Linked DNA regions of Homo sapiens. The protein of the gene in region 2 purifies or fractionates together with the protein of the main gene of each other region. This does not show direct contact. Each region holds a gene or a part of one and is shown on either strand. Other genes may lie near its edges.

Region 1 (3,753 bases), on a different chromosome or scaffold from region 2:
AGGCGTGACTATGAGGGGAGAGAAAATGTGTTCCCAATAAGCGAGAACTCAAGACAACAAAACATCAAACCAAACAAAATTAAACCATACAAACCAAATAAACACAAGGAAAGCCAGTTTTTTTTTCTTTTTTCTGAGACAGAGTCTTGCTCTGTCGCTCAGGCTGGAGTGCAGTGGCACGATCTCGGCCCACTGCAACCTCTGCCTCCTGGGCTCAAGCAATTCTCCTGCCTCAGCCTCCCAAGTAGCTGGGATTACAGGCACCCGCTACAAAGCCTGGCTAATTTTGGTATTTTTAGTAGACACGAGGTTTCATCATGTTGGCCAGGCTGCTCTTGAACTCCTGGCCTCAAGTGATCCACCCATCTTGGCCACCCAAAGTGCTGGAATTACAGGCATGAGCCACCACACCTGGCCAAGCTACTTTAATAAATCACAGTATAATAGATTTACATTACTATTGGCTAATGTAAAAAACTTGATTCATTAGTTGTTGAAGTACGGATATTGTGAGCTGAATTAAGATTTTAAGCCTATCTCCAAAAGTTCATTTATAACTTGATTGTTGAGAATGCACTCTGCCACAAATTAAAAATCCCAAATGAAATAGCTAATATGTTTCAAAGCAAAGTATGAAGAAACTGATCAGATTTGGCAATATAGGCATATACCTGCATCGGAGAATGTAAACCTCGTCAGCACCATGAGGTAATGTTAGCATTTTCTTCTTGCTTCCAGATCTTGACCTTGATTTCTTTTGCTTACAATCTAAGGCTAAAAAGGGGAAGAGAAAGACTTAACATTCCTTATATATTTCAAAATATACATACACACATATTTTTCTAGAGAGGTCAGACAGACCATCTAAATCAGTTAGAAAAAGTCCGCATTCATTTCCCTATTCCCTGAAGCATGCATTCAACTTGCTGATTCTGTAATAGCAGTAATATTATCTGTACTGTACAGCGGTATTATCTGTACTGAAGAATACTATCTGTATTCTTCCTATACTGCCTTTTCAAATAATGCTTTACCACACCAAACTAGAACTGAGAAAATGTAACTAAATAACTTGAAAGTACTAAATTGGTCAATTATTACAATAATGGTAATCTTTACTTTTATAATCATACATAATTTTAATATCTGGTTTAATCTTATTTCCAGAAAAGTAGAACCTTTTATTTGAGATCATTAAATTAAGTTTGCATTTGATTACTGCTCCATTAAGTAGGTCTTCTATACTTGGAAAACTTCGTAAGGGAATATGGATAATGTAATTAAAAGCTCAAGGAAAAATCAATTTTCATAGTGATTCACCATGAATTTTATAATAAATAGCTCTTAAAATTGTATGCTGGCCCTACATTTGAAAGGACAAAAAAAGCTCAACTTTCATTTTTGAACTTAATTTGTATTGCATATACAATAATCAATTATGCAATCATATAAGTTTTATTTTACTAGAAAATAAATATAAATCCATATTATCTCACGTAAGTTTACAATTGGATCTGATGTTTAATGCTAACTATTCTTTACATATTTTTCATTTTACATTTTCTCCAACTGCTTATTTTAAAATGTGATTTGAAAAGGTAAAAAAAAAAATTAAAATAGACCAAAATTTTATGTGAACTGTTCTTGAAATTTTTCCATTAATTGACTTTTCCTTTATTTATTCTAAAACAACCTGATTTTAAAAAGAAAAAAAGGTATTTTTTATAGGTAGCAATAGATAGCACATAACATTTTATAGGTCTTTGAATACAGCTACACCATTTCTTTGGACAAAGGGATGATAGCAATCCAGGGTGCTGCTGGTCAATTAGCAGGAAGAGAAGGTAAGAATTTATCTGTAGGGATCCAAGGGGGGAGGGATACAAATGTAACAGAAGAGTTACCCAAATGGCTTTTCTTCCATTATCCTGCCATGTGAAAAATTCCCTGGAAAAATTCTAAGTAAGAGAGAAGGAACTGGCTGTTCAATGACTCTGTGAAACGAATTGTTCAAAGTCCAGATTCCAAAAGAATAGATGCTACTATTACAAAACCAGTAAACATAGTTCCTTAGTCAAATGGCAATGATAACAGAAATGTCATATAGAAAATTCAAAACCACAAGAAACCTAAATCTCATTGAAGCCACTGGTTTCAGCTTCCTGTCACCTGCCTATTCAAAAGTAAAATCTAGGACACAGTCTTTTTCTGTTTATCCTTAGAAGAAGAGTCTAATAAGTAAAGAACTACTAGAAGTCAAGTTAGGTATTAAAGAATGGGTAATTCAAAGCTAAACAACCAAACTCTGGAATAGAAAAATCTTATAAGGATCTTATTAGTTATCTCAGTCAAGAGCCTCGCATGTAGTAGGAACTCAACAAATACTTCTGGAGTAAAAATAAAGCAAAACTCAGTAATTTAACCATTGATATTTAGACAGCCTATGAATGAAAATGTTTTACTCCTATTTAATACAGGTAATATTCCTGTACAACATTGTGCATCATTTGTTTAAATATGTTGCTGCAGTCACACATACTTCATTATCCTAGATATAAATCACTGACCAGCCAGCTTATGTACAGAAACTAGGTTATTCACAACAACTACAAGAGTGAAATACCTTATGCTTTGTACCCAGTAGGAAAAACCTTTTTCCTAATCGCTTTGGTGAGCAATCTGAATTTAAGTGGGTTATGAGTGATTCATACACTAGAAATAGAGTTCAGGGAACTCAAAGAGTAAGTGCTACTAGATGTCAGCTATTCTTTCCATCTGTAAAGATGGATCCTTGTCTGTGTTAGGCAGAATAGAGCAGGCATTTGGTGTATCATAAGATTACAGGTAGAATCTTACTTTGATGAGCTTGCTGGTTGTCAAAATTGCCACACTGTATTCAAACTCCTTTTAAAATGCAAATAAATTACTGTAGGATACAAATAGAATACATTATAACAACCCTTAAAAATTTGTTCACAGAATGTTAATGTTAGGGGTGTAAAGCAAATTGAGGAAGAAGGGCAGGAGGATGGTAGGGAAATATGCAAAAGAACATTTTATCAGTTACAAAAGCATTTAAATTTACATGTTGTTAATATTTTAAAAATGGAACTGGAAATGTTTATTCTAAAATACAGAAATATTTTTGGCTTTTTCTTTAATAGGGAAAAAAGAATTATTTTATGGCTTTTGATGCTTTATGGACTGTGGAAACTCTTAAGTTTAGGCTGTTTTATGAATGATCAGATCTAAACTTGAAATGAGAATGCCATCATTTTTGTAGCAATGAGTATTTGAAGGTATTATAACCTTGGAAAGCAGGACAACTCTGCCAGCTTATGACTGATCAATCATCTCTAGAACCCAGGGCTCCAAAGTTAAGGTTACAGAATCTCATGCACTGAGAATCCCTAGAAACTTATTCACAAAGTTAAAATATTAAAAATCTGGGAACTTTGGAAATTGAAATCTAAATGCCTCAGTGTTTTAATATCTTCATCAATTCTAGATTTATTATCTCCTGAAATGTTATATTTTTGAGCAGGTGAAACATGAACATATTTTACAATAGTTTTTCTAATGCCAATATCCAAACCCACTCCTGTGATACTGCCCATACCTTTGGGAAAATCTGTTTAAAATTGAGTATTTAACATATTAAAACTGCACAAAAAGGGGACATCTATATAGGATCCTCTACATAAAAGGATGATTTACACAGAAAATTTCAATAAATGAAAAGGATGAGGTAGA
Region 2 (3,753 bases):
ATGTTGCTGTCAGCTCACCAACTAAGAGTGCGAGTGTGTCTTGCTGGGCCCATTTTCCCATGGTCTGTAGAAGGCGCTGTGAAGCACATCCTGTTCTAGCTCGGGGGCCCTTCCCCCCTCTGCAGCCTTACCCAGTGCAGAGAATGCGCCCCCTACTGACTCCAACACTCATCGCCTTTAGCCGACTTGGCTGCGGTGCATTTTGGGTGGGGGCTGGTATTTTCTCCATGGCCATAAACCAGAAGCAACAATGCAGATTTCTAAAGAAACTGTATCAAGCTATCCAAGAGATTTTTTTTTTTTTCATTCTGAAGGTTCAAGATACAGGCACAAGAAGCATCAGGGATGGGAACTGGGTGTGTGGGGATGGACATCATTAACATGACAAACACAGAAACAGTTTGGTTCTTTTTCCCTCCTAAGCCTTTGTCTGTGAAATGGGGTTATGGCAAGAAGTGTCCAGAGTAACTGGTAAATTCAAGAAGATTAAGAAGACTTCGTGTGTGGGGGGTGTGTGTGTGTGGCTAAAAAGGATATCAGACCTAGAGTCTTGGTCTTGGGCAGAAGAGGAAGAGAAGCAATCGCGCCTTTTCCAGCAGACAGGGATCAAGGTTGGGGGGGAGGGGAAGGCAGGCAGGCCTCCCAGAGGAAAGAAGAGGTGAATACGAGTGTGTTCACAAAACTACTCCCCATTCATTACATTAAAAAAAAATCTTTTTGCAGCTCTCTGGATTTCCATTTTCTACCACCTTACTGCAAAGTTGGGGCTCAGAATGTTCGAAAGAGGTGCTGACCAGGCAGCTGAGATTGGGGAAAAGGGATGGTGGTGAACTGTGGTCAGGATAAGAGGAAAGCTGGCAGGTTGGGGAAGAAGGATTGCACAGGGGAGGCAAAGACTCACTCCATGCCATGCATGCTCCCCGCCCCCCCCAACCCCGTCCCCCCTCCCCCAGGTAAGGGTGGGCAGACCTGGCAGAAGGCTGGTTCAAGGCATGGGGGTGTGCGTGGGGGGGCTCCTTTTGGGGGTGGGGGGCGGACGGGATTAGTTCCAGGATGGGAGAAGCTCGGTTCTGGCTGGGGGAGATGCCCTTAGCTGCAAAAGCTCCGGGCGGCCAGGCAGAGTGCTGGCCTCGGTGGGCTCACAGGGCGGAGAAGGGGGTCGGGCTGCAGGAGGAGGCGCCTGGACCTCCGGAGCAGAGTCGGGTAGCGGTCCGTGCCGGGACGGGGGACCCGTCGGCGCCGGGGTGTGCAAAGGAGCGTGTGTGCGGCTGGAGGGCGGCGATGCGAACAACAATGCGCCCGCGCCCGGGGCCAGGCTGCACTGGCGGCCGCGCGGGCCGGGGTCGGGAAGCCAGGCAGGGCAGGGCCGCGGGTCCGCGCGCGGCGGCGCCGGGCTTACCTTGACTCGGCCTCGAGGCGCGCGCGGGGCCGGCGTGCTCGGGGGCCGGACAGCGGCGGCGGCGGCGGGCGGATGGCGGCGGCACGGCGGTGGCGGCAGCGGGGAGGGCGCGCCCGGGGCCTCGTCGCGCTCCGGCTCGGCGGACTCCGGCTCGCGCCGCGGCCGCGGGTGCTGCCGGGGGGCGCGGCGGGCGCAGCAGAGCGGCGGGCGGCGGCGGCGTCGTCGAGCGGTGCAGACAAAGGAGGGGCGGAGGGAGGAGACGGAGGGTGTGGGAGAGGCGGCTTCACCGGCGCGGGCGGCGGCGGCCGCGCTCCTCTCGCTCCTCAGCAGCGGGGACCGAGAGAGGGAGCTGTGTCTGAGAAGACGCCAAAATCCCCCTTAGCGCTGCCTGCGGGAGGGGGAGGGGGCACAAGATGGCGGCGGCCGGGGGGGGGGGGGCGGGAGTTCAGCTCATGGATCCCGGCGGGCGGCGGAGGGGAGACCGGGCCGGCGGAGGCGGCGGCGGCAACGGGCGGGGGAGGGGGCTGATCCCGCGTCTCCCCTCAGCAGACAATACAAGCGCCTCGGACCGAGTCCCCGAACCTGCCCTAGCCAAAATGGCGGCCGAGAAAGAGCGGAAGTGACGTAAGTGCCTCATTAGCATAAGAGGACTCATTGTCCAGCTAAATAGGGGGGGGCAGTGGGGACAGCACCCCTAACCCCCTTTTCCCCAGGGGGGGTTCCTCTTACTCCCACCCCTGCTTGCACCTAACTTTTCCTGAGGGAGGGTGCTCTCAGCACCCCCACCCCCGCTTGAGGGAAATTATATAATCCCCACTGAGGGGGGAGCTCTCGCGAGAACCAGGCGGATTTGCCATTGACCCACTAGGAGGCGCCGCGGATAATGGCCGCAGTGCGCTCCCGGGGCCCGTGTGCTCGGCGGGCGCCTTCCTCTGGCCGCAGCGCCGGCGGCGGAGGCAGAAGCAGCGGGCCGCAGCACGCCCAGCACTCAGTCAGGTGGCCGTGCTGGGGATCCCTGCGCGGGCCCAGCTGGGCCTGGACTACATCTGGCGGGAGGGGTGTGCGGGGCGGCCTGGGGCGGCTCCACGTGCTCAGATGCCCGCGCTTCCACGGCTGAGAAGCGGCGGGAAGGCGCCGGGACACCTGGCCGGTCGCCCCTGACGCCTCCTGCCTTAAATGAGGTGTGAGGGCCTCGTGCTTCACACAGCGACTTGAGATGAGACACAACCCCATGGATGCCTTAGCCCTTCCTGGTGGGGTATTCGGTGCAGAGGGGCCGAGATTTTATTAAGGTCCGCCGTTACCCTGTGACTTGACATTCTTCCCAGTCACAGTGATGGACTCTTCTCTGACCTGAATAAAAAAAAAAATGGGAATCCTAGTGCCTTGAGGCCACCCAACTGGTGAAACTTAAGGATGAGAAGTGATGTTGCCAATAGGGGCATTGGCTCTCTGCAAGATCCTTAAACAACACACTTTGTAGTCCTAGGGACATAGCTTTTGGTGCTCCCACAATCTGGGTAGCATAAGACAGCACATGGTTGCTTTGTAAATTTAGGTCAATCCCAACCAATACATTATCTCCTCAACATTTTTGAACCAACCTTTTAAAGTAGGTTGTTCAAAGTAACATTATGATTTAAAGTATCATTGGTTGGTTAAATGTATTGACAAGTAATAGATGTCAATAGTGAGGAATTAACCAAGCCTGTTTCCTTAATATGTGATCTTTAGGTAAATACACCTGTCTTTTGCTGTTTCTTTACATTTCAAGTTAACATAGTTTCAAGCCATACTTAACATCCGAAAATAATCTGAGTTCGCTGCAAGTAGTATAAATTGTGGTTACACATAGCTGTTCAACATCTAAGACTTCAGTTAGCCCTGTTTAACAAACTTTTATACAACACATTTCTGCAATTGTGATAAAATGTATCTTTAAAAGCCAAGTCAGTATTTCAAGGGAAAACAGCTGAAAAAAGTCGTGGAAAAAGGGGTTGGGGCAAAGCATTTGATTCAGAAAACTAAAGAATCTAATTACACACTGCAGAAGACAGATAAAAACTAATATGAAATAAGCAAAGTAAGTTTAAGTTTAGTTTTTCTTAGATATACTTAGATTCCATATAGTGATAATACAAATACAAGGGAAAACATCTGGATTTCATCTTTGGCCTCATTTACAAAGCAAAATGGGATGCTGGATTCAGATGTAAATATTTAATTTTACAGTGTTTAAGCACCAGATTTACTACAAAAATGCATCTAAATATTCCAGATTCTTTTCTAAATGACTTCCAAATGCTATGAGTCTTCACTGCTCAAATACTCTATGGTAAATTCCAAGAGTGACA
Region 3 (3,753 bases), on a different chromosome or scaffold from region 2:
TTCCAGAAAATGTCTCTTTGCTGTTTTCTCTTACTAGACTAAAATCTTTCCGTATTGATTTAAAGACAGAAACCTGATCAAATTGTTTAGGAAAGTCTTTTTTTAACTTATTTTGAATTTGTATTTCATTTTCATTGTCTGATTCATGCTGTGTGACTCTTCTCTCTACTTCCAAGCTATCATCAGTATGAATTGAAGAAACAAGATTGTCCTTTGAACTAAAATCCTGTTCATCCTCATTGTCACTACCAACGACTGGAATTCCTGCAAGATCCCCAGAGTTCAAAAAATAATCATCTTCATCCAGCAATGAATTTTCAGATCCTGTTTGATTCGGCATTCCATAAGACATGCTGTCAAGGGTAGGAGTTAAGTTGTGGTCTATATCTTCAGACATTTCTGTATCCATGATACCACCACCTTAAAAAGTAAAATACTGTTTAGACAAATGATAGTGCTAAAGATGACCACAATGATAAGGTCAGTCTGGTATTTAACCAAATAAATATTTTTTCAAACAAAATACAGATATTACCATAGTATTCATTTAACACTTTGATATAGGTGTGACAGATATAACTATTCCTATCTGACAGTTAAGGAAACAAGGAGCCAAAACTTGAGAAACTACTTTAGGTTAGAAAAGAAAGCTACGTGATATAGAGAAAAGAGCACCAACTTCAGAATCAGACATATCTGTGTTGAAATCAAAGCATGATCCTGAAAATCTATGTAATCCTAAAAAGTAAACTCTCAGAGTCTATCTATACAACAGCATAATACTCACCTTGGAGATAAATTTGTGGTGAGGATTAGTGATAGTATGTACAAAAGACCTACTAACACAATGACTGACAAATAGAAGGGAATATAAAATGGTAATTATAATTATTATGGCGATTATTCAGGGAAAACTGAGATTAGCACTCAGGTCTTTGGTCTGAGTCCCATTTTCTCTGCACTAACACTAATAAACACTGACGGCAGTTAATACTTACACATAAAAATAAATTTTATCCAACCTAGAATAAAAGACTATTTACTGTTTAAAACTACTAATATATACTAATCTCTCCCATTCCAAAACAAAACAAAGCAATGCCCTCATTCATGCCCTAACCCTACAATGCCCTCATTCATCTTCCCTTCACAAACTTGTAGGAAAAAAATTCTACCTAGTTTGCTTCTACTTCATCTCTATCATTAACCCTTTGAGCTTAATACAATCAGCTCCCAACTTTCCACTGGAACTTTTCTCATTAACATCATCAATGATCTCCTAATGGTCAAAGCAAATTGACTTTTTTCAATTCCTAAATGGCATATCCCTCATGGATAAAATTCCTTTGGATTCTTTGGTACTCTTATTTCTTACTTTCCTTAATTGCCTTATAATTTATTTTATACTCTTCTTCTGTTCACATGGCTTCAATGTTAGCTTTTCTGCAAGATTCCTGTTCTCTTTACTTTTACACTCAGACTGAGCTATTTTGTTCACCTCCATAACACTTACCTTTGCTACTGACTTCCTAAGCACTTAAGCTTAGACCTTTCTTATAAGATTTCGGATGTCTATATTCAACTAGCTCCTACACGTTCTCCAACTTAGCATCTCTAAAATCAAAACTCATCATGTTCCCTCCCATTCCAAGCATATGCTTCTTATATTTCCCTCAGATGGTTAACAGATTCACCAAACCAGCAGTTGCTCAAGATTTCCCCCTGGACAAATTCTGTCAACTTTATTACTTATCTCTCTCAAATCCATCTTTTCCACTTAGCACCTAGTTCTAATACTCCACGTCTCCTCCTGGATTCTACAATACCTTCAAAGGTATACTAATTCAGTCCACATGGATACTCAGGAAGCAACCATACCCTTATAAACTCTATGCCTAAACCACATTTAATTGATACATCAGCAAACAAACTGGAACTGATAAAAATAGAGTGAGGCGAAGACTAAAAATATTAGTGGCACTGGCATCCTTGCTCTTATTTGTTCCTGAAGCCCAGTTACATCCTTCATGTGGCTGGTTCTTCAACCCTTCTCTGGATTATGGAATCCAATAAATTCCTTTTGTTAAGTTGATTTGAGTTGGATTATCTGTAATCAGGTCCCAACTGATACAGAACCCAAAGGAAAGCTTTCCTGGACCAGGCACAGTGGCTCACACCTATAATCTTAGCACTTTGGGAGGCTGAGGCCAGAGGATTGTTTGAGGCCAGGAGTTCAAGACCAGCCTGGGCAACATAGCAAAAGCCCATCTCTACAAAAAAAAATTTTGTTTTAATCAGCCAGGTGTAGTGGTACACACATGCAGTCCTAGCTACTCAGGAGGCTGAGGAAGGAGGATCACTTGAACCCAAGAGTTTGAGGCTGCAGCAAGCTATAATTGTGCCACTGCACTCCAGCCTGGGTGATGTGACAGGGCAACCCCCTGTTTCTTTCTTTTTTTTTTCTGAGCTTTGCTCAAGTTGCTCTCTTCCATAATGACATCAGAATTACCTTTCCAAAATATAAATCATTTCACATTACATCCTCCCTTGAGATTCTTCAATAGCTCCCCACTGCTTGAAGTATTCATTCATTCAGTACATATTTATTAGGAAACCACTCTGTGGTAGGTATTGCACTAGGTTCTAGGGATAAAATGATGAAAGAGATAGCTATGACTCTTCCTCCTCACAGAGCTAGAAAAAATAAACAGAAAATTAGAAACAGTATGAGGGTAAATAATGATTTGAGTCCATAATGTCAAAGGGAAGGAGATAAAAGCTTGTTTCTATCATAAGAACGTTTGCTAATAAACGTAGAGGCAATAATATAATTGGAAAAATTGTCTATACTTTCTAAAATAATCAATTGAGACAACAGATAGTAAAACAGATGCTAAAATCTTAGGAGATGTATGCTGAAGAACTTACAGGTGAGCCATCTCAACGTTTCATCATTAGTAGCTGACCACATAGCATGTGCTCTGTAATTTTTCATAAATGAAAAATTAGGTGTTTTATGTAGTCAGAACAATGAGTTCTATAGTGCATGAGAAGTCAATACTAAGAAGTAATATTGTAAGCAACTTTCCATATCACTACATTTACTTATTTATTTAGTTAGTTGGTTCATTTTTTGAGACAGGATCTGGCTCTGTCACCCAGGCTGGCGTGCAGTGGCATGATCTCAGCTTATTACAACCTCCGCCTCCAGGACTCAAGCAATCCTCCTACCTCAGCCTCTCAAGTGGCTGAGATAACAGGCGCATGCCGCCACATCTGGCTAATCTTTGTATTTTTTGTAGAGACCCAGTTTGGTCTTGAACTCCTGAGCTCAAGCAATCCGCCCACCTCAGCCTGCCAAACTGCTGGGATTACAGACATGAGCCACTGCACCCAGCCCCTTATCATTACATTTAAATTCAGGATATAGTATTTGAAGAAAAGGGTAGTCATATGGAAAAATGAGATCCCTAACTCACATCAAAAAATTTTACAGATGTATCTAAGTTTTAGGCATAAAGAAATAAAACAGTAATATTAAATAAACTACGGAAGAATTATTTTAGTAATATTAAAGAAACTATGGAAGAATTATTTTTGAGTCGCAGAGACAAGCCTTTCTAATAATGACCAAAAAAATCCAGAATAAAAGATCAAGTTATAAATAAAAATATAAAAGATCAAATGTGACTTTAAAAATGGCTAGAGATGAGAAAACACAAACCAAATCAAAAAGATAAAAAGATAAACTGA

What was found.
Region 1: the proteins of ADNP (region 2) and ZNF644 purify together in Homo sapiens (affinity purification with mass spectrometry; 3 studies listed by BioGRID and IntAct, with this or other methods). This does not show direct contact.
Region 3: the proteins of ADNP (region 2) and ZMYM4 purify together in Homo sapiens (affinity purification with mass spectrometry; 2 studies listed by BioGRID and IntAct, with this or other methods). This does not show direct contact.

The regions. Positions count from the first base shown.
Region 1 is NC_000001.11:90,917,381-90,921,133, forward strand, and holds part of ZNF644 (zinc finger protein 644), read right to left. Parts: intron 775-3,753; coding exon 672-774; intron 1-671.
Region 2 is NC_000020.11:50,929,427-50,933,179, forward strand, and holds the start of ADNP (activity-dependent neuroprotector homeobox protein), read right to left. Parts: upstream 2,012-3,753; 5' UTR 1,400-2,011; intron 912-1,399; exon of another isoform or gene 1-911.
Region 3 is NC_000001.11:35,355,592-35,359,344, reverse strand, and holds part of ZMYM4 (zinc finger MYM-type protein 4), read right to left. Parts: intron 524-3,753; exon of another isoform or gene 421-523; coding exon 1-420. UniProt on the Homo sapiens protein: Plays a role in the regulation of cell morphology and cytoskeletal organization.